Homo sapiens: one gene and its partners. The protein of the gene in region 1 purifies or fractionates together with the protein of each later gene. This does not show direct contact. Each region holds a gene or a part of one and is shown in the gene's direction. Other genes may lie near its edges.

Region 1 (3,500 bases):
CACATTCTTCTTTGGAAGAAAGAAAGAAATAAGAGCAAGCTATCAGAGTAATTAAAAAACACATTATAGATGGAGAATAACTGTGAGAGGCATTGTATTAGTGATCTACAGCTGCATAACAAATTACCACTAATTTAGCAGCCTGAAACACCTATTTATTATCTCACAGTTGATGTGGGTCAGGAGTCCAGGCACAGCTTAGCTGAGTCCTCTGCTTTGGGTCTCATAAGGATGCAATCAAGGTGTCAACAAGGGCTGTGTTCTCATCTGGCTCATCTGGAGGCTTGACTGGGGAAGGGTCCATTTCTCCACTCCTGTGGTTGATAGCAATATCTGGTTCTTTATAGCTGTAGGATTCATGCTAGAATGATTCTGCAGCACTTGCAAGAAGAGAGATTGAGAGAGAGAGAAGAAAGAGAGAGCAAATGCCCTAGCAAACAGAGTTTTATGTAATGTAACATAATCAAGAGCATAACATCCCATCACCTTTGCCATAGCTATTGGTGAGAAGAAAGTCACAGATCTCCACACTCAAGGTGAGGGGATTAGACAAAGGCATGAACACCAGGAAGCAGGGCTCCTGAGTCTCCTGAGTGCCCCCTTAGGGTCTATCTGCCACAAGCATGAAGGATGAGAATGACCCAACCACACCGATATCTGGAGAACAGCCCTCCAGGGAGAGAGAGCAGCAAAAGCAAAGTCTCAGAAGTGTGAGTGTTCCTGGAATGATTGAGACACAGAAAGGAGGACATAAGGCAGGGCCTAGAGCATCTAGGATCTTGTGGGTGTTTGAACTGGTCCTAGAGTCTGCTTTGAAAGAACAGGAACCCACTGATGAAGTTGAGCTGGAGGATGGCATGATTTTATTTATATGCTGGAAGGGTCACTGGCTGCTTTTTTTTTTTTTTTTTTTTTTGAGACAGGGTCCCACTCGGTTGCCCAGGCTGGAGTGCAGTGGTGCAATCACAGCTCACTGCAGCCTTGACCTCCCAGGCCCAGGTAATCCTCCCACCTCAGCCTCCCAAGCATCTGAGATTACAGGCACAGGCCATCATGCCCGGCCTCTGGCTGCTTTTGGAAAATAAGGGACTAGATGTAGTAAGAGTTGGTGCGTTTCAGGCAATACGACTTTTTAAATTTAAAAATATCAAATTGACAAATGAAGATTGTATATATTCAAGGTATACAATCTGATGATTTGATCCACCTGTACATTGTGTAATGATTATCACAGTCAAATTAATTAGCACATCCATTGCCACCATGCTGAGCACCTGAACTTCTTCATCTTAGAACTGGAAACTTATACCCTTTCATCAACATCTCCGCATATATCATGCTAAACAAAATAAGCCAGACTCAGAAAGACAAATTCTGCAGGATCTCACTCATATGTGTAGTCTAAAAAAGCCAAACTCACAGAAGCAACTGGTGGTTGCCAGGGACTGGTGAGTAGGTGATATTTCATTTCATTTTTATTTTTATTTTTATTTTTTTTTTGAGACGGAGTCTGGCTCTGTCCCTCAGGCTGGAGTGCAGTGGCGCGATCTCGGCTCACTGCAAGCTCCGCCTCCCGGGTTCACGCCATTCTCCTGCCTCAGCCTCCCGAGTAGCTGGGACTACAGGGGCCCGCCACCACGCTCGGCTAACTTTTTGTATTTTTAGTAGAGACGGGGTTTCACCATGTTAGCCAGGATGGTCTCGATCTCCTGACCTTGTGATCTGCCCGCCTCGGCCTCCCAAAGTGCTGGGATTACAGGCGTGAGCCACTGCGCCCGGCCAAGTAGGTGATATTTTAACTTAGACTAAATGGTGCCACTGTGGAGATAGAAATATAGGCCAGGTGCAGTGGCTCATGCCTGGAATCCCAGTATTCTGAGTGGCCAAGGCAGGTTGATCACTTGAGGCCAGGAGTTTGAGACCAGCCTGGCCAACATGGTGAAACCCTGTCTCTACTAAAAATACAAAAATTAGCAGGGTGTGGTGGCGGGCGCCTGTAGTCCCAGCTACTTGGAAGGCTGAGGCAGGAGAATCTCTTGAACCCGGGAGGCGGAGGTTGCAGTGAGCTGAGATCATGCCACTGCACTCCAGCTTGGGTAACAGTGCAAGACTCAAAAAAAATAAAAGAAAGAAAGAATTTGGGTGAATGGTGTTCTTTGTCAAGATAGAGAAGACTGGCAAGGAATCAAACTGGAGGGGGCGTTAGCAGGGTCATTCATAAATATTTTTGTTATTAAAAATACTATCAAACTCCAGGACTATTAAGAAGAGTAATCTGAGGCTCTGTCCATGCTCTGAGGACCCAGGGAGCATCTAGGGAATGGAGAAGCCATTCTCTTTTCTGCTTCCCAAAGAAGAACAGGATGTCTATAAGTAGGACGTGAGGACTCCTGTCCCCAAGGTTCCTGTATGATTAGTGTAATTCCTTTTCTTCCCTCCTATTTTCTAGATAAACACGATGAACTTGAAGCTCCCTCAATGAAAACAGGTAAGATAATTAGAAAGGAGATGTTTTTCCCAATGAGATCTGCTTCATGATCACCTTTGCTTAAAGTGCACAAGGAGAACTTTATTTATTTGTTTGTTTGTTTGTTTGTTTGTTTTTTGAGATAGAGTCTCGCTTTGTCACCAAGGCTGGAGTACAGTGGCGCAATCTCAGCTCACTGCAACCTTCGCCTCCCGGATTCAAGCAATTTTCCTGCCTCAGCCTCCCGAATAGCTGGGACTACAGGCACGCACCACCACACCCAGCTAATTTTTGTATTTTTAGTAGAGACGGGGTTTCACCATGTTGGCCAGGCTGGTCTCGAACTCCTGACCTTGTGATCTGCCCGCCTCAGCCTCCCAAAGTGCTGGGATTACAGGCGTGAGCCACCGCACACGGCCTATTTATTTTTTTGAGAAAGAGTCTTGTTCTGTCCCCCAGGGTGGCGTGAAGTGGCACAATCTCAGCTCACTGCAACCTCCACTTCCTGGGTTCTGGGTTCAAGCAATTCTCCTGCCTCGGCCTCCCGAATAGCTGGGATTACAGGCACCCACCACCATATCCAGCTCAGTTTTGTTTTTTGTTTTTTGTTTTTAGTAGAGATGGGGTTTCACCATGTTGGCCAGGCTGGTATCAAACTCCTGACCTCAAGCAATTCCCCCGCCTCGGCCTCTCAAAGTGTTGGGATTACAGGCATGAGCCACCGCACCCGGCCTAGAAGAACTTTAAAGCCCATTTTCTCAATGTTATTGGGGAAACTGCTGTGTTTTGGGGGGTGGAGGATGAGGGGAGATAACCTCTAAAGTGCTTCCGGGTTCTGAAGAAGCTGGTGTGTAAAACAGCACAGAGTGCGTTGTTTGCCATATGACATGATGAAAAACTAGGGTGGGATTTGGGGAATAATGGGGGTGAATTTTTCAGTGACCCATTTGGGGAGTAGGACCAGGACCTACGCAGAGTAGGTACTTCAGGAATATATATAATCAAGAGTTTGTTATAACTCTAAAATTCTCAA
Region 2 (3,500 bases), on another chromosome or scaffold:
TGAGTATGTGCAGTTTATCCATTGTACTCTTGATGGACATTCGGGTTTTTTGCAGGGTTTTGCTATTACATATGTGTTGCTGTGAATTTTCTTATGCTTGTTTTTTAGTGAATTCAAAGTCATAAAATCTATAACAGTTCCTTTTTCCTCTCTTTTGTCTTGCCATTTTCTTGTTGAAGAAATTGGATTATTTCTCCTATTAAAAAAATTCATAGCACTGTTGTAGTAGCAGCCATTATATTTGTTAATATGCAACCTTGAGTCAAAATTGTTCTGTCATCTAAAAAAATTAAGTAAATCATTCAAATAATTTTTAGTGATTTTCCCCCTTTCAAAACCTTTCTACAGTATCTGACTTTTTAACTGTTGCCATGTTACTTTTATAATAATAACATTTTAGAAAAAAAATTTTATGTAATTTACTATTTTGATTGCTTTTAATTTTATAACTATATATTATGTGTTTTAAGTGAAAGTAAATACTAATGTTCTCCTTTGTATATTTCCTTTAATAGGTTTGATATTAAACTGCTCTCAGAATTTTCCTCTTGCCTAGCAGATCAGCATTTGTATTTTAGTCCATTAATGGGAAAAATAGCTGATATTGTTCATAGGAACTTGGAAACCACACAGGACTTAAGGTAAATTTATTTAGGGAATCTTGTGTTGTGGTGGAAAGATCCTGGGCTTTGGATGTGGATGCAGTCAGATTTGCTACTCTTAGTTTATGTGACTTAAGGTTACTTAAGCTCTTGGAAGTTCGTTATCCTCATCTGCAAAAGAGGGATAGTAATAGCTACTTTGCAATATTGCTGTGGGGATTAGACATAAGGTACATAAAGTGTAATACAATATTGTTGAGGTCTGTGGAGGATCTGAGTTTTTACCTATTTGCAAGCTAAGTTTGCCTGCCACATTTTCCTACGTGTGCCGTAGGAAGGCCTGAGACTCCGAGGTCAGAGAGAGGACTTTGTTTTTTATAGCAATAGCAGTAGCAGAGTACCAGAATTTTCTTGTGTTGATTCCCTGAGCTCTCGTTCCCATAATGGGTTGTGATCCAGGAGAGGAGCTCTGAGCTTAGGAAACCTGAATCTTTTATAATAAAGCATGCCTACTCTGCTCCAACAGGAGACATTATCTCTATTCTCCTAGGCTGTTTGCTATGCAAACATCCTTGAAAAGATAGTTCTGAACAAAGGCAGTCAGAAACCCACTGAAAATGGCCTCTGAATAAGTATCTAGAACATAGAAGTTTCTCAGTAATGGATAGTAGGTATTATTATTATATCATGAAGTAAACCCAAGAAGTATTTAAATTAAGTATGAATTCATTGGCCAGGCATGGTGGATCACACCTGTAATCCCAGCACTTTGGGAGGCCGAAGTGGGTGGATCACTTGATGTCAGGAGTTCGAGACCAGCCTGGCCAACATGGCAAAAATCCCATCTCTACAAAAAATACAAAATTAGCTGGGCATGGTGGCGGGCGCCTGTAATCCCAGCTACTCGGGAGGCTGAGGCACAGGAATTACTTGAACCTGGGAGGTGGAGGTTGCAGTGACCTGAGATTGTGCCACTGCACTCCAGCCTGGGCAACAGAGCAAGACTCTGTCTCAAAACAACAATAACAAAAAACGAAAAAAAAACAGTAACAAAACTTGAAACAACAACAACAAAATCCAAAAAAACCAAAAAATAAATTAATAAATAATTAATTTACAATAAATTAATAAATAATTAATTTACAATAAATTAATAAATAATTATTTTACAATAAATTAATAAATAATTATTTTACAATAAATTAATAAATAATTAATTTACAATAAATTAATAAATAATTAATTTACAATAAATTAATGAATAATTAATTTACAATAAATTAATGAATAATTAATTTACAATAAATTAATAATTAATTTATAATAAATTAACAAATAATTGATTTACAATAAATAAATAATTTATAATAAATAATTTACAATAAATTAATAAATAATTATTTTACAATAAATTAATAAATAATTTACAATAAATTAATAAATAATTTACAATAAATTAATAAATAATTTACAATAAATTAATAAATAATTTACAATAAATTAATAAATAATTTATAATGAATAATTAATTTATAATAGATTAATAATTAATTTATAATAGATTAATAATTTATAATGGATTAATTTATAATTAATTTATAAACAAATTCACAAATTTTACATACAATTATGTCTTTTTTATTCTTTCCATCTGGGAATACTTTCTTTTCAGTTTCATAAAGGAGAGTTAATAGTTACATTTGCTGAATGTCAAGGAACTATTAATTTGAAACTAACATTTAAGGAGTTTCTCTGGTTTTCATACCAGTGGTTTGAGGGTTTGTTTTGTTTTTAACATAAGATTACTTACTGTCAATGCTAACCTTCATAATCCAGTACTATGATTGTCTTTGGCGTTTCAGATACAGCTTTTTCTCTCATATTTACAAAGTGATTAGCACTTTGGTAAAATTAAATTATAGTAGTTTCCTGCTCTTCTTGCCCCACTCCACCCTACTTCCCTGCCTTTTTTTTTTTCTTTTGAGATGGAGTCTCCCTCTGTTTCCCTGACTGGAGTGCAATGATGCAACCTCTGCCTCCTGGGTTCAAGCGATTTTCCTGCCTCAGCCTCCTGAGTAGCTGGGATTACAGGTGCTCGCCACCACATCCAGCTAATTTTTATATTTTTAGTGGAGATGGGGTTTCACCATGTTGCCAGGCTGGTCTCAAACTCCTGACCACAAGTGATCTGCCCACCTCGGCCTCCCAAAGTTCTGGGATTACAGGCATGAGCCACCATGCCCAGCCCCTTGCCTTTTTTTTAAAAAAAATACACTTATGTGGCTGGGTGCAGTGGCTCATGCCTGTAATCCCAGCACTTTGGGAGGCTGAGGTGGGAGGATTGCTTAAGCCCAGGAGTTTGAGACCAGCCCTGGCAACATAGCAAGACTCTGTTTCTACAAAAAAAAAAAAAAAAAAAAAAAAGAATTGATCATTCTTAATTGATGTAAAAATCTTTGCATCTTTTTTCTTTTTCAGTTCCTTGTCTGTCTTGATGGTCAACATATCTTCTTTAATATCACGACATTTTCAACAACAACTGGTGAACAAAACAGAACTTCTTTTTGACACCATAGATTCTTCTGAGGTCAACGTTGCAAAAAGCATAGCAAAGTTTCTTCGAAATGTTAGATATCGTTATCAACCACTATTAGAAAGATGTAATAACGTATTTTTAAGTAATGTGGACCACCTTGATTTGGATTCCATCAGTAAAATACTTAGTGTATACAAATTTCTACAATTTAATAGTTTTGAATTTATTATAATGGCTAAAAAGAAGCTAACTGAAATGATTCCTCTGTGTAATCATCCTGCTAGCTTTGTAAAATTGTTTGTAGCATTGGGACCCATTGCAGGACCTGAAGAAAAGAAACAGTAAGTTCAGTTTAAAATGCA
Region 3 (3,500 bases), on another chromosome or scaffold:
GTGTGGCTGAGAAGAAAACGAGTGACAAAATTGCTGCCTTGGTTCCTGGGGCTAATTAGAAAGGAGTGAGGGGATGGTGGGAAAAGTTTTGCCAAGCCATGGATAGAGCCTAGAAGAGAGGAAAGGGAAGATAGTTGAAGACTCACTAAGCTAGGCGTGGTGGCTCACGCCTGTAATCCCAACACTTTGGGAGGCCGAGGCGGGCGGATCACAAGGTCAGGAGTTCAAGACCAGTCTGGCCAACATGGTGAAACCCGTCTCTACTAAAAATACAAAAAAATTAGCTGGGCATGGTGGCGCGTGCCTGTTATTCCAGCTACTCAGGAGGCTGAGGGAGGAGAATTGCCTGAACCCAGACCCAGGACCCAGGAGGTGGAGGTTGCAGTGAGCCGAGATCGTGCCACTGCATTCCAGCCTGAGCTACAGAGCGAGACTCGTCTCAACAACAACAACAACAACAACAAAAACAAAGTACTCACTAGTCAGGCTGACTTTAGAAAAAGCTTTACTTTACCCACACTAATTTAGACATAGAAATAGAGCTGTTTGGCCAGGCACAGTGAGTCACGCCTGTAATCCCAGCGCTTTGGAAGGCTGAGATGGGAAAATTGCTGAAGCCAGGAGTTCAATAACAGCATGGGCAACAGAGTGAGACCCCTGGGCTACAAAAATCAATTTTTTTTTGTTTTAAATTAGCTGAATATGGTGGTGTACACCTGTAGGCTGAGCTACTTTGGAGACTGAGGTGGGAGGATTGCTTGAGCCCAGGAGTTGGAGGTTGCAGTGAGTCATGGGCCATGATCATGCCACTGCACTCCAGCCGGGGCAACAGAGTGAGGCTCTGTCTCATGTTTTTGGGTTTTTTTTTTTTTCTTTAAGAAAGGTGTGTCTCACTGGAAAAAAAAAAAAAGCTTTGAGACCCTATAAAGTTTGATTCAGTATTTTTAAAATGTTGTGGTGGCTAACTGCAATTACATATGGTATGTGAGGGTATGGAAATGCCATTGTATTCTGAAATAGAGCACTACTTTGCTCTTTTTGCATTGATTTCCTAGGTCAAAAGAATAACATCTTTTTGCAACAGTAATTGAAAGCAATAGATTCTTTTCTGTGTTTAGGTTTTGTTTTGTTCTTACTAGGATGTACCTTTGATTTGGATTTGCATTCCTTTCCCTGTCACTAGCAGAACTTTACAAAATATACTCTGCTATCTATTAATACTAGTTTCGGCTCCCAGATGCTTTATCATATAGAAACAGCATTGTAGAAGAGCAGCTAGCTTCACGCCCCTTTCTAATCAATTAACTATAATCTAGCTGTGAATATTGCCCTTGAAAAGTGGATGACCCTTTGGGGCAAAGAAAATTGAAGACGTGTAAGTTCCCAATTTTGTCAATAAGGAAAGTACTAAAGGCACTCAAAGTAGAAACTGTACGTGCTCTGAGAAAAATGTGTTTGGTTTTGCTTGTATAGAGAAATTTAAATTTTTTAATAGAATTAAACAAAGCAAGAGCAAGAGTTGAAAAGTGGAATGCTGACCATTCAAAGAGTGATCGAATGACTCGAGGACTCCGAGCCCAAGTAGATGACCTGACTGAAGCTGTGGCTGCAAAGGATTCCCAGCTGGCTGTACTGAAAGTGAGACTCCAGGAAGCTGACCAGCTACTGAGTACTCGCACAGAAGCATTAGAAGCCTTACAGAGTGAAAAATCACGGTAGGTGATTCTATGAATAATGAAAAAAATGAGCAAGTAATGGTAAACATTGTAGTGTATCCACTTATGAAACTTAGCTTTCTTGGAAATTTACAAGAGGGAATATTTCTTTTGGTAGTGTTAGAAATGTGTATGATTAAAATGGATTCATTGGCTGGGCGTGGTGGCTCAAGCCTGTAATCCTAGCACTTTGGGAAGCCGAGGCAGGTGGATCACCTGAGGTTGGGAGTTCGAGACCAGCCTGACCAACATGGAGAAACCCCGTCTCTACTAAAAATACAGAAAAAAAATTAGCCGGGGGTGGTGGCACATGCCTGTAATCCCAGCTACTCAGGAGGCGAGGCAGCAGAATCACTTGAACCCAGGAGGTGGAGGTTGCAGTGAGCTGAGATTGTGCCATTGCACTCCAGCCTGGGCAAAAAGAGCGAAACTCCATCTCAACAACAACAACATAAAATGGATTCATTGTTTGAACCTTGAGATGCATTGTTAGCAAATTCTGAATTTAAAAGCATTTGTTGTGTCATTAATCTTTCATTATACGGTATGTACTTAATATTTGGATGCCTAAAAATGTAGATTATGTTCCATTAGAAAGGAAAGATTTATCTAAGAATATTTCAGTCAAATTATCTTTTTTGTGCTTGACTAAAGCTGACGCTCTAAAAATTATTCTGCCTTATCACTTGTACACTGTAGACATGAGTTATTTCACATGATGCATTTTCCTTTAGAATAATGCAGGATCAAAGTGAAGGTAACAGCCTGCAGAATCAAGCTCTGCAGACTTTTCAGGAGAGACTGCATGAAGCGGATGCCACTCTGAAGAGAGAGCAGGAGAGCTATAAACAGATGCAGGTTAGAATGAGAGACAGCAGATTCCTATTGTTACTTGGACACGGAAAAAATGACTTTATGCTGTTTCATAGCACATTAACTGTCTAATATAATTCTGCAATGCATTTCAGAAAATTCTGTTTCTGTGACAAAAATCAGATATTTGAAAATTTAGCTTGATCCTTGCTAAATGTATTTAATTTTATGTGTTGAGAGACAATTAAAATAGTTAATGTGCATTAGAGATATACATCTTTTACTTAATTTTTGCAACAATCATTGTCATTATTTGATTAAATGCTAATGGTTGGGGGATCGTATTTGTTTTTTATTAATTTAAGTTTTTCTGATTCCAGATTAATCTGGCTCATTTATTTCAGGAGAAAATTGTATGTAATATGTAAAGAGTTTTACTCTTAGATGAATATTTGCATTTAGTTCAGTCCCAGCCCTGTCTACACGTGGGAATCACTTGTGTGATACCTTGTGCTGTCTGAGCTCCATATGCAGTCACATTCCATTGTATGAGGTAGGGACTAGGTATTGACACTTTGGTTTTAGAAGGTTCACAGGTGTATCTAATGAGCAGTCAGGGTTGCAAACCACTGGTCTGGGCTAGCTTTTCAACAGGTGAAAGTAATTCAGTCCTGAAAGTAAATATCAGGTAGTGTGTGTCTCTTAATTTTAACACAATATATCCAAAGTATTAATTATTTCAATATGTAGTCAATATTAAAAGTTATTAATGAGATATTTTACATTATTTTTTGAATACTGGTTCTTTAAAATATGGTGTAATTTACACCTATTTATTTACTTATTAAATTGGAAACAGTTGATCAGCTAGTATCAGACCAGACCTAGTATCCAAGTGACCAGGTTCACCTGGGAAATTTCTTAAAAAACAGATTCCCAGACCCATCTTGAAAATTCCAGTTTAGTAAGCTT
Region 4 (3,500 bases), on another chromosome or scaffold:
CTAGATTTGAGCCTAGACATTGTGGACACTCAAACAGCCCATTTGTGGATGAATGAATGAACTGGGAGAGCAGGTAGATCCAGGTTGTAGTCTCCGAGTACACTGGGTAGTGCTGTTTTTCTGTATTGTATAGATATCAAATAAGAAGATGGTAAGAACTCTGTGGCCTCTTTCAAGATGATGGTATGATTGCCTTAGGGAACTAATAGCTAAGAAGCAGCTTTTCGTTGTTAAATTTCAAGTATGTTTTGTTAACTGGAATTGGACAAAGTTAAACTGTTGTTAAGTTAGAATCTGTTTTCCATTAATAGATACTTATTTAAATCAAAAATTTCAGCTGAAGGAGTCCAATACTTGATTTATACTCTAATTATATTCTGAATGTAAATAGAACTTCTAAAGGTAGTCCCTACACAAAATACCACAAATTCAGAGTTCACCGTCTGACTTGATTATATACACATTATCAATGTAAGGAAAAGACATTTGGAAAAAATACTGCATATAAATGACACAATTGGATAGTTGGGGATCATATTAAATGAGGCAGTTCAAGTGGATAAATGAGCTCCATTGGCCTTTATAGCTAGGGAAATCACAGCTTTCTAGGAAGAGAAGATGAGAAGAAAGATAAAACAGAGATATATTATTCATGTGATGGAAGAAGATACTGACATAGTTTAGAAATTCCCTGACCGGATCCAAGTTGAACTAAGGCCAGACTATATCCCAGATATTCAACCAAGTTTAAACCAGCTTGTAATAGTACTTCAAAACTAAGTTTAACTGTCAGTAACTTCTTTTGTGTCACCCTAGAACCAACTACTAGGTATTTTATGGTGTTGGATTCCAGAGTCCCTGTAATGATGATGGCAAAGCTTTGCCCCTCTATTCTAGCACGTATACAAGGAAAGAGAAAGTTTTGTCCTCCTTTTGTTTAATTCTCTTTTCCCTTACACCTGGAGCAGTATCATCCAGTAACAGGTTCTCTGTAATGGTTTGTTAGACTAAATTAGTACAACTTAAATACGTCCATATATGACCAGGTTCTTCTTATGCCAAGAGTGAACTCTGTGCTGAATCAGTTAATGTTCTACTAAATAAAGGAAATTCACATTCGCTTTCTTGTTAGGTTCATGCAAATATTGAAAACTCTTGGAATGAGGAAGAAGTTTGGAGAATTGAAATGTATATCTCCTTTGGCATAATGAGCCTTGGCTTACTTTCCCTCCTGGCAGTCACTTCTATCCCTTCAGTGAGCAATGCTTTAAACTGGAGAGAATTCAGTTTTATTCAGGTATGTGGGGTTTTGTTTGGTGAAGGATTGTGCAGGATAGGATTTCCTTGTTAAGAACAACTGCATTTTAAATATGTTCCTTATTAAAAGGGTGCCTTTGAGGCTGTATTTATGCATCTAGATACATTATGCTGGAAGCCAGCTTAGGATTGCTCTGGTTAAATAAGTGAAAGACCAGTCAGTATATGATTGTACTGGAAGACTTTGACAGCACTGCCTTCCAGTATACTATGTTAAGAACAAAAAAGTTATCTTAAAAGAGAAAAAAAAAATGAAAGTTGGGAAGGATGAGCTTAGATCAAATTTAATGTTGAAAGTCAATTTATTATTAGCCAAGTGAATGAAAAATTATTTTATGTTTTGAGTCATCTTGATTTGTCCAGAAAAATCTTATTAATTTGAACTCAAGTGGGGATGTCAATCTGAATATTTTAAAGAAATGTGTGTATATATACACACACATACAAACACAAGCAGTGGCAAACTAGGTAACTAGAGTAATGGATTATAACATGCAACCAGCCTTAAGAATTTTGTTAGTATATCAGTAGTATACTAATACGTATGGATGTCTGTAAAGGGATTTCAAACCACCATTGTATTCTTTAATAAGTTAAACATTCACCTTCTCCAATAATATCTAAATAATAAGGTTGCATATTTTAAAAATATATAACTGAAACATAGACCCTTCCTATATTTTCACAAAATCTGTACTGGTTGTATCCAAATGGTTTACAGCATAGTAGACAGATTCATGTCCTTTGGTGGTACACTTAAGTTTTGTTTCAATTCATTGCTTATTTGCTTGTTTTTTTTTTTAAGGTCCTGTAAAAATCTCATTCAAAGCAGGGCCAAAATGCTTATCTGAATTTATTTTTCCTTTTTGAAGAAAAGGGAGAGTACTTTCCCAACAGCTAGTTTAATCATACCCGAAAAGAAATAGAAGGTTCTAGACAGATGCAAATTATCATTATAAATTTAGATGAGTAATTGCAAATATTTTGCCTGCTGGAGGGTTGATATTTTCCAGTAAAGTTAGACATTACATCACTATACTGATGTAATATTACTTTTATATAACAGACTATTCTTCAAAGTAAGCACTCTTAAACATAATAATTTAGCGAACTAAAGAATGATGAGCTTTTAGAATTTAAACTGTAAAGTGCCTAACTGAAGTATTCTTAATAAACTCTATATTTTAATTGTTGTTTATATTAATACTGCAGGATTTTTCATATTTGCCTATTAACCAGTGTGTATATATGTGTGTGTGCCCATGAGGATGCTCATTTAATTTTAATTTAATTTAATTAATTTTAATAATTTTAAATTAGTTTATTTAATTTTATCATATGTCTGTTTATGTATTAACAGTGATGTGTTACCTAACAGTAGGGAACGTTCTGAGCAATGAGTCGTTAGGCAGTTTTATCATGTGAACATCATAGAGCATATTTATACAAACCATGACCTATTGCTCCCAGGCTACAAACCTGTACAGCATGTTACTGTACTGAATATTACAGGCACTTGTAACACAATGGTAAATATTTGTGTATCTAAACATATCTAAACAGAGAAAAGGTACAGTAAAAATAAGGCATATAATCTTATGGGACCACCGTTGTATATGCAGTCCATAGTTGACCAAAATGCCCTTATGTGGCACATGACTATATTTATGTGTATGTGTATACACACACACATACATACACATTTCTTTAATACACAACTGGTGGGAATGTGAATAATTTTTATAAAGAAGAGTCTAGCAGTATGTATCAGTACCCTTAAGGAAAAGCTAGATGTTTTGACCAATAATCCTACTATTAGAAACCAGTCCTAAGAAAATAAATCAAAATATGGAAAATGGCCTAACATGACATTTATAGTTGAGGAAAGTTGGAAACAGTGAATTATCAACAAAAAGGAATGGTTTAATAAATTATGCACATCCATTCAATAGAATATTATACAGTATTAATGTCATTTTCATATTTAATGACATGAGGAAAATGTTCTTGATAAAATAAATGAAGTAGTAAGAATATTAAACTGTATGCAGTAGGGCCTTATTTGTGTAACATAAGGTGTGCATATAAATAATACATATATATGCATATATAAAAATATTAATATTATTTAATTCAGTAGAGGACAAAGGTTAACTTGATAATTTAAGACAAAATAGTTTTAT
Region 5 (3,500 bases), on another chromosome or scaffold:
CCGCGTAGCTGGGATTACAGGCGTGCGCCACCATGCCCAGCTGATTTGTTTTTGTATTTTAGTAGAGACAGGGTTTCACCATGTTGGCCAGGCTGGTCTCAAACTCCTGAGCTCAGGCAGTCTGCCCATCTTGGCCTCCCAAAGTGCAAGGATTACAGGCATAAGCCACTGTGCCTGGCCTACAATTATTCTTTCATATCGATCTTGTATACTGCAACCTTGTTGAACTTGCTTATTTTAATAGTTTTTATTGGATTTCTTAGGATTTCTATAAGGATTGTGTCATCTACAACTATAGTTTTACTTCTTTTTTTTCAGTCTGGATGCGTTTTATTTAATTTCCTTGCTTAGCTGTCCCAGCTAGAACGTCCAATACTGTTGAATAAAATCGGTGCGAGCAGACAGCCTTGTCTTGTTCCTTCTCTTTGTGTAGAAGCATTTAGGCCGGTACCATCAGGTATGATTCCTGCTGTGGGGCTTCATCAGGTCACAGGTACCACCTTCTAGTCCTGCTTTGCTGAACGGTTTTGTTATGAAGAAGTACTAGATTTGATGTGCTGTTTACTGTGTCTAAGATGAGCTTGTCGTTTTTGTTCTTTATTTTAGTGATATGGTGCATTTCATTAAGTGATTTTCAGATGTTAAACCTGCATTCCTGGGATAAATCCCACTTGGTCATGGTGTATAATCGTTTTTATACATTGTTGTGTTCAGTTTGCTGGTATTTTGTTGAGGATTTTCATGTCTATGTAAGAGATCATGGTATATGCTTTTCTTATGCCTTTGTATGATATTTGTAATCTGTACACACACATATAGGTACATACATGCACAATTTTTTTCCAACTCATTTGGGAGAAAATTGAGACATCGTGTCCCTTTATCACTGACTACTAAATATCTTGTTTATTTCCTAAGAATAAGGACATTGTTCTACACAACCATAGTCCAGATGTTGGAATCAGGAAATTCTACATGGAGACCATAATGTCACCTGATCCATGCACTTCCTCGGTCATCCCAGTTCTGTCCCTTTAGCTGCTTTCTGGTATAGGGTACAGCCCAGACACATACATTATGTGGCTGCTGTGCCCTGTTAGCCTCCTGCCCTTGTGTTTGTTGACCTGGATACTTTCAAAGAATTGAGACCAGTTATTTTGTTGAATAGCTCAGGTATGGTGGTGTTTTCTCATGATTTGATCCAGGTGATGCAGTTTTGGGAGGAATCTCATGGAATCGTGCATGTCCCCACCAGTGTATCATATCGGGGGTCCTAGTGTTGGTTTGTTTCAGTGTTGATCTTGTTAGTTCTGATCACTTGTCTATGCTCGGTTTCTGCACTGGAAAGTTGCTGTTTCTGCCTTGTAATAAATAAGTAGTTTGTAGGGAGATCTTTGGGATTAAGTAAACATCTTCTTGTGATTAAACATTTAGTCAGCATCAGGCCGGGTGCGGTGGCTCACGCCTGTAATCCCAGCACTTTGGGAGGCCGAGGTGGGTGGATCACTTGAAGTCGGGAGTTCAAGACCAGCCTGGCCAACATGGTGAAACCCCATCTCTACTAAAAATACAAAAAATTTAGCCAGGTATGGTGGTGGGCGCCTGTAATCTCAGCTACTCGGGAGGCTGAGGGAGGAGAATTGCTTGAACCCGGGAGGCAGAGGTTGCAGTGAGCTGAGATCACCCCACTGCACTCCAGCCTGGGTGACAGAGCGAGACTCCATCTCAAAAAATAAAATAAAATAAAACAAAATAAAATAAGTAAATAAACACTTAGTCAACATCAATTGTTTTTAATTATCTATGGATGGTTTTCTAACTCCAGTGATATTGCTGTACTTAGTTCTTTGGCCTCTGTTGTGACAGAGCCTCTCCTATTCCTTTTTTTTTTTTTTTTTTTTTTTTTTTGAGATGGAGTCTCGCTCTGTCGCCCAGGCTGGAGTGCAGTGGGGTAATCTCGACTCACTGCAAGCTCCGCCTGCCAGGTTCACGCCGTTCTTCTGCCTCAGCCTCCCGAGTAGCTGGGACTACAGGCGCCCGCCACCACGCCCGGCTAATTTTTTGTATTTTTAGTAGAGACGGGGTTTCACCGTGTTGGCCAGGATGGTCTCGATCTCCTGACCTTGTGATCCGCTCAACTCGGCCTCCGAAAGTGCTGGGATTATAGGCATGAGCCACCACGCCTGGCCAGAGCCTCTCCTATTCTTATGTGCATGCATCTCTCTCCGCATGGACTCGTGGTTTGCTGTTTGACGCAGGGGTCCATGCGCAGTCCCTGTTGCTGGCCTTGGTGTTCAAACTGTCCCACACTTGGTCGGTAGCACCCTTCGAGCGCGCAGGCCCCTGTCCTGAGGCCCTGTTGCCCTTTCTGGCGCAGGACGGTGTCCCAGCTCACCTGGGGCTGCCCGTGCCTCTGCTCTGCGGACCCTTCCATGAGCTATTGGTCTCTTGTTTCTGGGAAGCTCGCTCCTTTATTTCTTGAGTATTTCTTGCCCCTGTTTTTGTGTCTCACTGACTTTGGTGTATCTGTTATCCGAAGGCTAGCACTGCTGTCTTCACATCTTTTAGCTTTTTCTTCTTCCATTCTTTTTAAATTTCTTCTTCCTTGAAGTCTTCGGCAGCCTGTTCTTCCAAGTTAGTAATTTCTTCCTCAGTGAATCGTTACATTATTCGTTTCCTGAATTGAATTCTTTATTTCACGGTTATACTTTTTCACACCCTGTCGCTGGGATTTTCCTTGTTCTTGGCTCCTCATTTCCCCGTTGTGGTTCCTTGTTTCCCTGTTGCGGTACTTTTGGTGCATTTTTTCGCACAGGCATTGTCCCCAGTCTGTGTCCTAACGTTCGTGTTTCTGGTGGAGTATGTCCTCACTGTTCGTTATCAGGTATTTTGCAGTTTCTATTTGGTTTCTTTATTAACGCAAATGATTCTTTTATGATCTTTAAAATCTCCAGGTCGATAGGTTTTCATGGGTGTTGTGGATTTATTGTTATATTGAATCTGGCCAGGTTGATTTCTGCTTTTAAGTGTTGGTTGCAATATTATTTTTGGCCTAATGGTCAGGATTTCAAAGTGTATGTTTGGTATGAAGTTCTATCTATATTTTTAGTGCCTACTGTAAAAATTGAAGTTCAAGGCCTAAATATCACTGTTTTTTTTTTTTTTTCTGTGTGACTTTCAGCTTCTGAAAGAGAGGGATTAGAAGTCCCTGCAGTGTTGCCATTTTTCCAAATATGCCGCTTTGTGGTTGAGCTTTTACTTTTTGGTATTTCAAAACCTGAATGGAACGTGTGGGAAACAGAAGTCGTCTGCTTACAGGGACGCCTTCTGGGGAGCTGAGCGTACAGAGAGGACAGCAGACATCCAGCCCACCGTGGCTGCCGAGGCTGGGTGGCGTCCTGGTGGGAACCAGGTTTTCTGACATGGGTAACGTTCCCACAGAGGCTATCCTGTTCCTCCCCTGCAGGCATTGCAACCTCACGAGCAGTGATTTTTTATGG
Region 6 (3,500 bases), on another chromosome or scaffold:
AGTTGGGTGTGGCGGCATGTGCCTGTAATCCCGGCTACTCAGGAGGCTGAGGCAGGAGAATCGCTTGAACCAGGGAGTTGGTTGCAGTGAGCCGAGATCTTGTCACAGCACTCCAGCCTGGCGACAGAGTGAGACTCCGTCTCAAAAAAAAAAAAAAAAAAAGAAAAAGAAAGTGATTCCATAGCTGATGTCTCTTGGTGGAGAAGTGGGTTTTGCCCCCTTTGTTTCCTTGACACTGTCCCTGCAATCTCACTAGTGGTGTGGTGTTAGAAAGAGATGGCTGCTCTGTGTGACCTTAGCCAGTTCATTTGTAAAATAGAAGCCTCAGTTCATGTGTAAAGTAGAAATCATAATGGTCCTTTCCCCATGGGGTTGTTATAGGATGACCTGAGATAGTGCAGGTTGCAGTGCCTGGGACTAAGTAATTGCTCAATAAATACCAGCTATTTGTTGCGACTGGCTGTTAACCTTCTGTTTAAGAATGATAGCTGATTAACAGCCTCTAATTATGCTAAAAAATGTTCCTCTTCCTCCTTAATGGCCTCCTCCCTCCCCATCCCAATCTGTGTTCAGTGCTTGGAGGGCTTGTTGTTGCAATCTCTTCCCACCTTTCCATTTCTACGACCAGCATCTCAGTTTACTGTTGGTTCTACCTGGAAGCATTACGGCAACCCCTACCCACCCTGAACCGCTCATGTGTGTGTCTGGTAGGGTCTTTTCTCTGTTTAAAAACCTCAGTGGCCCCTCTCACCTGCACAGAGTTTACAGTAAGATTTCTTCACTTGGACACTGTTGACCCTTTGGGCCCTGTGATTTTTTTTTTTTTTTTTTTTTTTTGAGACGGAGTCTCGCTCTGTCGCCCAGGCTGGAGTGCGGTGGTGTGATCTTGGCTCACTGCAAGCTCCGCCTCCCGGGTTCACGCCATTCTCCTGCCTCCCAAGTAGCTGGGACCACAGGTGCCCGCCACCACGCCTGGCTAATTTTTTGTATTTTTAGTAGAGACGGGGTTTTACCATGTGAGCCAGGATGGTCTTGATCTCCTGACCTCGTGATCTGCCCACCTCGGCCTCCCAGAGTGCTGGGATTACAGGCGTGAGCCAGCGCGCCGGGTCTGGGCCCTGTGATTTTTGTTGTGGGGCTATCCTGCGTGTCGAAGGATGTTGAGCAGCATCCCTGGCCTCCACCCACTAAATGCCAGCAACACTTCCCTCCCCCTGCTGTGACAACCAAAAATGCCTCCAGACATTGCTGAGTGTCCTTTGGAGGGACAGTCATCCCGGCTGAGAACCACTGCGCTCGTAGTCTGTTTTCAGTTCGCCTTTCTGGCTTCCTCCTACCCCCTGGTCATTCTTTTGTTCTTTGGCTTGCTTGGTTCGTTAGCCACCAGCTGTTTCTGGGGAGCCTAACTGTGCTAGGCAGTGGGCTGCACTCCTTGGCGTTCCCCTGGCTGGAAGACCCCGGGTGCTGGCCGCTTTTCTGAATGTGTTCTGGTTGCGTATCATCCTCAGCTATTTGCTTTTGAGTGGGATGTCGTTCCCCTACCTAATCTCAACCTTTGAAGTCTTACCTGTTCTTTCAAGCTAGGCCCAGATGTGACGTCCTCCCTGAAGCCTGCCTTGTTCCCCACCCCACCTTGGAATTTGACCTTTCCTACGCCCTTGCCACATTTCACATAATTGTGTGTGTGTGTGGTGTCTCCTGCACTGTTATAGCATAAGCCCCAAATGGAGTGAGAAGCTGTGCTCTTCCTAGTGTCAGGCTTTGGAAAGCTGGACTGGGCAATTACACCGGCTAGAAATTCTCCTCAAATCCATCTTTCAGGCCGGGCACGGTGGCTTGTGCCTGTAATCCCAGCACTTTGGGAGGCTGAGGCAGGCGGATCACTTGAGGTCAGGAGTTTGAGACCAGCCTGGGCAACATGGTGAAACCCCGTCTGTACTAAAAACACAAAAATTAGCCGGGCGTGGTGGCGCATGCCTGTAGTCCCAGCTACTCAGGAGGCTGAGGTGGGAGGATTATCAGACCCTGGGGGAAGGTCAAGGGTGCAATCCCACTTCACTCCAGCCTGGGCGACAGAATGAGACGCTGTCCCCCCCCCACCAAAAAAAATCCATTTTTCCCACAGATGCTGCAAGAGAGCTATTTAAAATGCAGCAGCTCATGCCACTGATTAAAACCCTTTGGTGCCTCCCCAGCACACACGAGAGAAAGTCCACGTTCTTGGAAGTGGCACACAGGTCCAAGATCTGGCCTCGCCACTTTCTGCCTGCCTTGGGCGGCAGGCTTGACCTCATGTGACCGCCCCCACTCACGGCTGTTTTTGCTACTGTCTCCCCTGCCTGGAGCAGTGGCTTTCAGACTGCAGCTCATGACCTATTTGTGTGTTTGGAAGTGAATTTTGAGGGCCCTAAATTTTTTTTGACTTGAATAGAAAAGAAAAACCCAGAGTGCCCGTAGGTCTACCATTCTCAGACATAGCTGGTGTGTCCCCATCTAGCCACTCTAAAGGAGCCTGTCCCACTCCCGCCAGTCCCATCCCGTGTTATTTCCTATGTGTCACTTTTCACTCTCGGAAATTGTCCTCTTTGTTTGTTTGCTTGCATCCTGTCTCCCTCCTTCACTTGTGTGTGGAGGGGCCTTGTGAACAAGGATGTTCAGGGCTGTGTCCCTGGGACCTAGAATGTACCAGGCACATGTAATGAGTCGGGAGGGTGGGGGAGCCTGGGGGTGTGTTGTGTGCAGCGTGGGGCTCAGGGCCTGGGAAGATACCGCGCTGGGCCTCGTTAACTGCCCTGTGTGTGCAGGCAGCTACATCACCACGATCGGAGTGGATTTCAAGATCCGGACCGTGGAGATCAACGGGGAGAAGGTGAAGCTGCAGATCTGGGACACAGCGGGGCAGGAGCGCTTCCGCACCATCACCTCCACGTGAGTCCACACGCCCACTCCCACCCAACCCGCGCCACTGACCTGTGGACACAGTTGAGCGACCGGTGCCTGGTCATGGTGGAAATGTCACTGGTGGGTCCCTGAGGCTGTCGGGAAGTGAGCCTGTTGTTGGCTGTAGTAGGTGGCGTTTGGCTGCACCCTTCCTGGTCCTGAAGATGTGAGGGGGGTGCTGTGGGGGAGTCGCTGAGCACCCTGGCTGGAGTCTGGCCGGACAGTGGCCATGTTCTATCTCCTTGGAGAGTCAGCCGACCCTCCGGCCCACTGTGCCGTCACCTTACAGAGAGAGCAGAATAGCATTTGCCTCGCTAGGGGGTTGCGAAGTGCCTTGCCCACCCAGGACTTAGTCGCTGACAATTCCTCTTGGTAGGTGTCAGTTATGGCAGCTGGAGTTGGCCTGTGCAGGCTCCCGTCACCTGCACTGATGCCTTGGAAGTGACGCTGTCTAGAGACGAACACGGTGCATGTCAGCAGGCCCTTCCCTACCCTTAAAGCTGTTCCTGGGAAATCCGGCCGCCCACCGGTTGCCCACCTTTGTGGCTGAGCTGCAGGCC
Region 7 (3,500 bases), on another chromosome or scaffold:
AAAGAGACAATAAATAACAAATAATTAAATATCTAGGATATCAGACAGAGAAGAAAGGAGGGAAGGAGGATGAAGGCTACAGGGAGGGTGTGTGATTTTACATAGGGTGGCCAGGGAACATCTTGTGAAGGAGGTGACATCTGAGCAAAGAAGCACCGGCCTGAACAGATGAGGGCTTGACGGTGGGGTTATCTAGGGAAGAGCCCAGTAGGTGTTGGGGAGTGGGCTAGTTTAGGTCAGGTGGTCAGGGGAGACCTCTAGGAGGAGGCGGCACTGGAGATGAGTGTGGTAGAAATACGGGGATCTGGGAAAAGTAAGGCCAAAGCCCAGAGTGGCAAACAGCCTGGGCGTGTGTGAGGAACGGCAGTGGCTGGAAAGACCCTGTGCTCCCAGGCAGCCCAGGTGGCCCTTGATTCCTTTCAGACTGCTGTGTGGGTTCCGGGGTGGCGGGGTACTGGGCCAGGTCCCTAATCTCAGCTTGCTGCACCCCAGCTCTTCCTGCTGAGAAGTGACGTGGCTACTTGCACACCTCGGGGGTTTCCGGTCCGTGGTTAGCTCCTTCCCCTAACAGCATGGTGTTCACACAGGCTTTTAAACACCCAGCTGGCCCTGAAGACATCTAGTGGCCTGTAAATGTCAGAGCCCTGCTGCATCCATCGCTAGAAATCATTTCACTAATACTCTGTGCAGCAGGGAGGGAGGGAGGGCGAGCAGCTGGAGAGGATGTTCTCTGGGCTCTGTCTGCTCTTTGTCTCATTCCTCTGCCCAGCCCCATCCTCAGCCACGCCTGCGAGGGCCACCTCCTCTCACCTACATCCAGCGTCCTACCCCTTCAAACTCTGGGTCCCTGGCCACTCCTTCAGGATCCCACGGTCTGACCTGGGCTGGCCCACCTGGCAGCTGGGGAGGCCCAGCTGTGCCCCGTTCTTCCTCCCCTTCTGGTCAGGGCTAATCATGAGGCAGGATTATTGTCCAGCTCAGCCGGACCCAGAGGTCTGGCTGCCTGGAATCCTCGGCCTCCTGTGAGCTGCGTGGATCACAGTGACAGCAGTAATCCCCTTCTTGGAAAGAGCTTGGCCGTGTGCTGAGTGCTTTCCATCTATTATCCCCACAAATCTTCACAACAGCCCAGTGAGGGCGACCCTGTTAACCAATTGTACTGATGGAGAAACGGAGGCAGGTGATCACAGGGCCAGGATAAAGAAGCAGAGACAGAGTGTGTGCCTTTCACTCCCAAACCCCTTGCTTTCTCTTCTGAGATGGCAGCAGGGACACATCTCCTTCATCCTCTTCTCCACTTGTTTCCTGTGCTCTGGGAAGCCTTCTTGACCCCAGTTGGGCCAGGCCTTCCATTGCACATTCCCAGAGCACCTTCTCCTTCCTTCTCTGAACCTGTGCTGCAACGGTGGTCATTACAAAATCATCCTTTCTGCTGGCCTGTGAGGGCATGGAATTCCAGCATCTTGTTCACCTTGTCGCCATGTAGAAGGCTCAGTGACGTTGGCTAAATGAGTAAATGAATGACTGAAGAATAGGTGAGCTTCTGTGAAGGCCCTCCTTGCTCTGTCAGGGTGACAGGTGAGGAAACAGTCAGGACATCTCCCAGTTGGGCATCATGGGTTTGTTCATTTGTGTGTTAATTCTATATGCTGACCCCTGACAGCAGAGTGAAGGCAGGTGGGGGCCAACAATGAATCTGATAGGAGCTTACTCTCATGGGTTCCAGACAAGTTGGCCCCAGGTGGGAGCCCTGACCAGCCACTGCCAGTGAGATCAGGCTTTAGAAGAGGGTCAGAGGAGTCAGGAGCATCTTCTGCCTGGGGGACTGGAGAAGCTTCCTGGAGAAGTGATGCTTGAGCTAAGTCTTTAAGTTTGGGTGGAATTCAAGCACAGGAGCTGTGCGGAGGCAGCCCTTCAGGCAGACAAAGCTGAGGGAAGAGAGAGTGGCAGAGGGAAGGAGGAGGGATGGGAACGGGCCACTGAGCAGGCCACGTTGGCTAGAATATGAGGAGCACTTCAGATAGTTAGGGATATTAGAGATATTCCAGTTGGAAGGATGGGGTGGAATCAATCTTGTAGGGCGCTGAATGTCCCTAAGACTTTTCTTGGCGAACAGGTGCAAAGTGCAAAAGTGGCATTTTGGAGGCCTTTGAATTCTCAAACTTGAATAGAAGCCAAATTTTTGGGTGTGACCAGGAGACTTCTAACTAATTAAAGTAAAACATATTTCCCAGGGCTGGCACAGTGGCTCACGCCTGTAATCCCAGCACTTTGGGAGGCCGAGGCGGGCGGATCACAAGGTCAGGAGATTGAGACCATCCTGGCCAACATGGTGAAACCCTGTCTCTAGTAAAAATACAAAAATTAGCTGGGCATGGTGGCGTGTGCCTGTAATCCCAGCTACTCAGGAGGCTGAGGCAGAATAATCGCTTGAACCAGGGAGTCGGAGGTTGCAGTGAGCCAAGGTTGCGCCATTGCACTCCAGCCTGGTGACAGAGCAAGACTCCGTCTCAAAAAACAAAAAAAACCAAAAACATATTTCCCCGAAAATGATCAGGACTAAGATCACTGAACCTTTTCCAGAAGGTTGGGAGCTGTCTCTGAGGCAGGTGGTGCTGTTCATGTGAGCATGAACTGATTACCTGGTCCTAGGCTCATGTAGACAGTGTGGGCTTTTCCCTTTGGCACCCCAGCCCAGCAACTCCAGCCCAACAGGTCTGGCCCAGGGCTCCTGCCCTGTGGGGACAGTCTGAGGTAGAGTGACCAGCTCCTCCCAGTTTACCCAGGACCACCTGGAAAGTCTCCTGTCTTAGGAAACCACTCAATCCCAGGAAAATCAGGGCACTCGGTCACCCTCATCTGAGATCCTGTCTTGCCGGCTGGTGGGCTGTGCAGCTGGCTCACCCTGCAGGCTCTAGGCAGTTGGGAAGAGCAATATTGCTCCCAGAAGCTCCTGGTCTGATGGGAGGTGATAGAGACATCCAAATCCAAGTGACAGATGCTCACTTAGACCCTGTTACAGTTCACATGACGGACACAGAGGCTGCGTCTCTCTCCACTGCCATACACCAGCTCCCAGACCCCATCTCCTTTGTCTCCAGGACGTCTCTGCCCACTTCCCCTGGACAGACCTGCCTCGTGTTCCACCTGAACTGGCTCAGGGCTCTGCAGAACAGGCCCTGACTGGGCCTTTCCCTTCAATTGTAGTTATCTCTCCAAGATCCCAAATTTGTTCTCCCCACCCCTGCCCTGTCCCCCCACAAACCCCACAGAATTTGGGTGACTCTCTGGTGCCCTCAGCATATCAGTGATATGAGTCCAGCCTTTGTGATTTTTCCTTCTGCATCCCGCCTTGTACCTTCATTTCTTTTTTTTTCTTTTTTTCTTTTTTTTTTTTTTGAGACGGAGTCTTGCTCCGTTGCCCAGGCTGGAGTGCAGTGGCACAATCTCAGCTCACTGCAACCTCTGCCTCCCAGGTTCATGCCATTCTCCTGCCTCAG

What was found.
Region 2: the proteins of VSTM1 (region 1) and FASTKD1 purify together in Homo sapiens (affinity purification with mass spectrometry; one large-scale study listed by BioGRID and IntAct). This does not show direct contact.
Region 3: the proteins of VSTM1 (region 1) and GOLGA5 purify together in Homo sapiens (affinity purification with mass spectrometry; one large-scale study listed by BioGRID and IntAct). This does not show direct contact.
Region 4: the proteins of VSTM1 (region 1) and STEAP2 purify together in Homo sapiens (affinity purification with mass spectrometry; one large-scale study listed by BioGRID and IntAct). This does not show direct contact.
Region 5: the proteins of VSTM1 (region 1) and MROH1 purify together in Homo sapiens (affinity purification with mass spectrometry; one large-scale study listed by BioGRID and IntAct). This does not show direct contact.
Region 6: the proteins of VSTM1 (region 1) and RAB35 purify together in Homo sapiens (affinity purification with mass spectrometry; one large-scale study listed by BioGRID and IntAct). This does not show direct contact.
Region 7: the proteins of VSTM1 (region 1) and ZDHHC18 purify together in Homo sapiens (affinity purification with mass spectrometry; one large-scale study listed by BioGRID and IntAct). This does not show direct contact.

The regions. Positions count from the first base shown.
Region 1 is NC_000019.10:54,050,398-54,053,897, reverse strand, and holds part of VSTM1 (V-set and transmembrane domain-containing protein 1 isoform 1 precursor), read left to right. Parts: intron 1-923; coding exon of another isoform or gene 924-999; intron 1,000-2,449; coding exon 2,450-2,488; intron 2,489-3,500.
Region 2 is NC_000002.12:169,560,366-169,563,865, reverse strand, and holds part of FASTKD1 (FAST kinase domain-containing protein 1, mitochondrial), read left to right. Parts: intron 1-515; coding exon 516-641; intron 642-3,080; coding exon 3,081-3,479; intron 3,480-3,485; exon of another isoform or gene 3,486-3,500. UniProt on the Homo sapiens protein: Involved in the down-regulation of mitochondrial MT-ND3 mRNA levels which leads to decreased respiratory complex I abundance and activity.
Region 3 is NC_000014.9:92,807,805-92,811,304, forward strand, and holds part of GOLGA5 (golgin subfamily A member 5), read left to right. Parts: intron 1-1,495; coding exon 1,496-1,715; intron 1,716-2,449; coding exon 2,450-2,573; intron 2,574-3,500. UniProt on the Homo sapiens protein: Involved in maintaining Golgi structure. Stimulates the formation of Golgi stacks and ribbons. Involved in intra-Golgi retrograde transport.
Region 4 is NC_000007.14:90,228,740-90,232,239, forward strand, and holds part of STEAP2 (metalloreductase STEAP2), read left to right. Parts: intron 1-1,132; coding exon 1,133-1,297; intron 1,298-3,500. UniProt on the Homo sapiens protein: Integral membrane protein that functions as a NADPH-dependent ferric-chelate reductase, using NADPH from one side of the membrane to reduce a Fe(3+) chelate that is bound on the other side of the membrane.
Region 5 is NC_000008.11:144,235,016-144,238,515, forward strand, and holds part of MROH1 (maestro heat-like repeat-containing protein family member 1), read left to right. Parts: intron 1-3,500. UniProt on the Homo sapiens protein: Lysosome fission factor. Recruited to lysosomes by RAB7 (RAB7A or RAB7B) at scission sites and homooligomerizes to mediate the constriction and scission of lysosomal tubules. May sever membranes by inserting amphipathic helices into one bilayer leaflet.
Region 6 is NC_000012.12:120,103,254-120,106,753, reverse strand, and holds part of RAB35 (ras-related protein Rab-35), read left to right. Parts: intron 1-2,804; coding exon 2,805-2,928; intron 2,929-3,500. UniProt on the Homo sapiens protein: The small GTPases Rab are key regulators of intracellular membrane trafficking, from the formation of transport vesicles to their fusion with membranes.
Region 7 is NC_000001.11:26,833,188-26,836,687, forward strand, and holds part of ZDHHC18 (palmitoyltransferase ZDHHC18), read left to right. Parts: intron 1-3,500. UniProt on the Homo sapiens protein: Palmitoyltransferase that catalyzes the addition of palmitate onto various protein substrates, such as CGAS, HRAS and LCK. Acts as a negative regulator of the cGAS-STING pathway be mediating palmitoylation and inactivation of CGAS.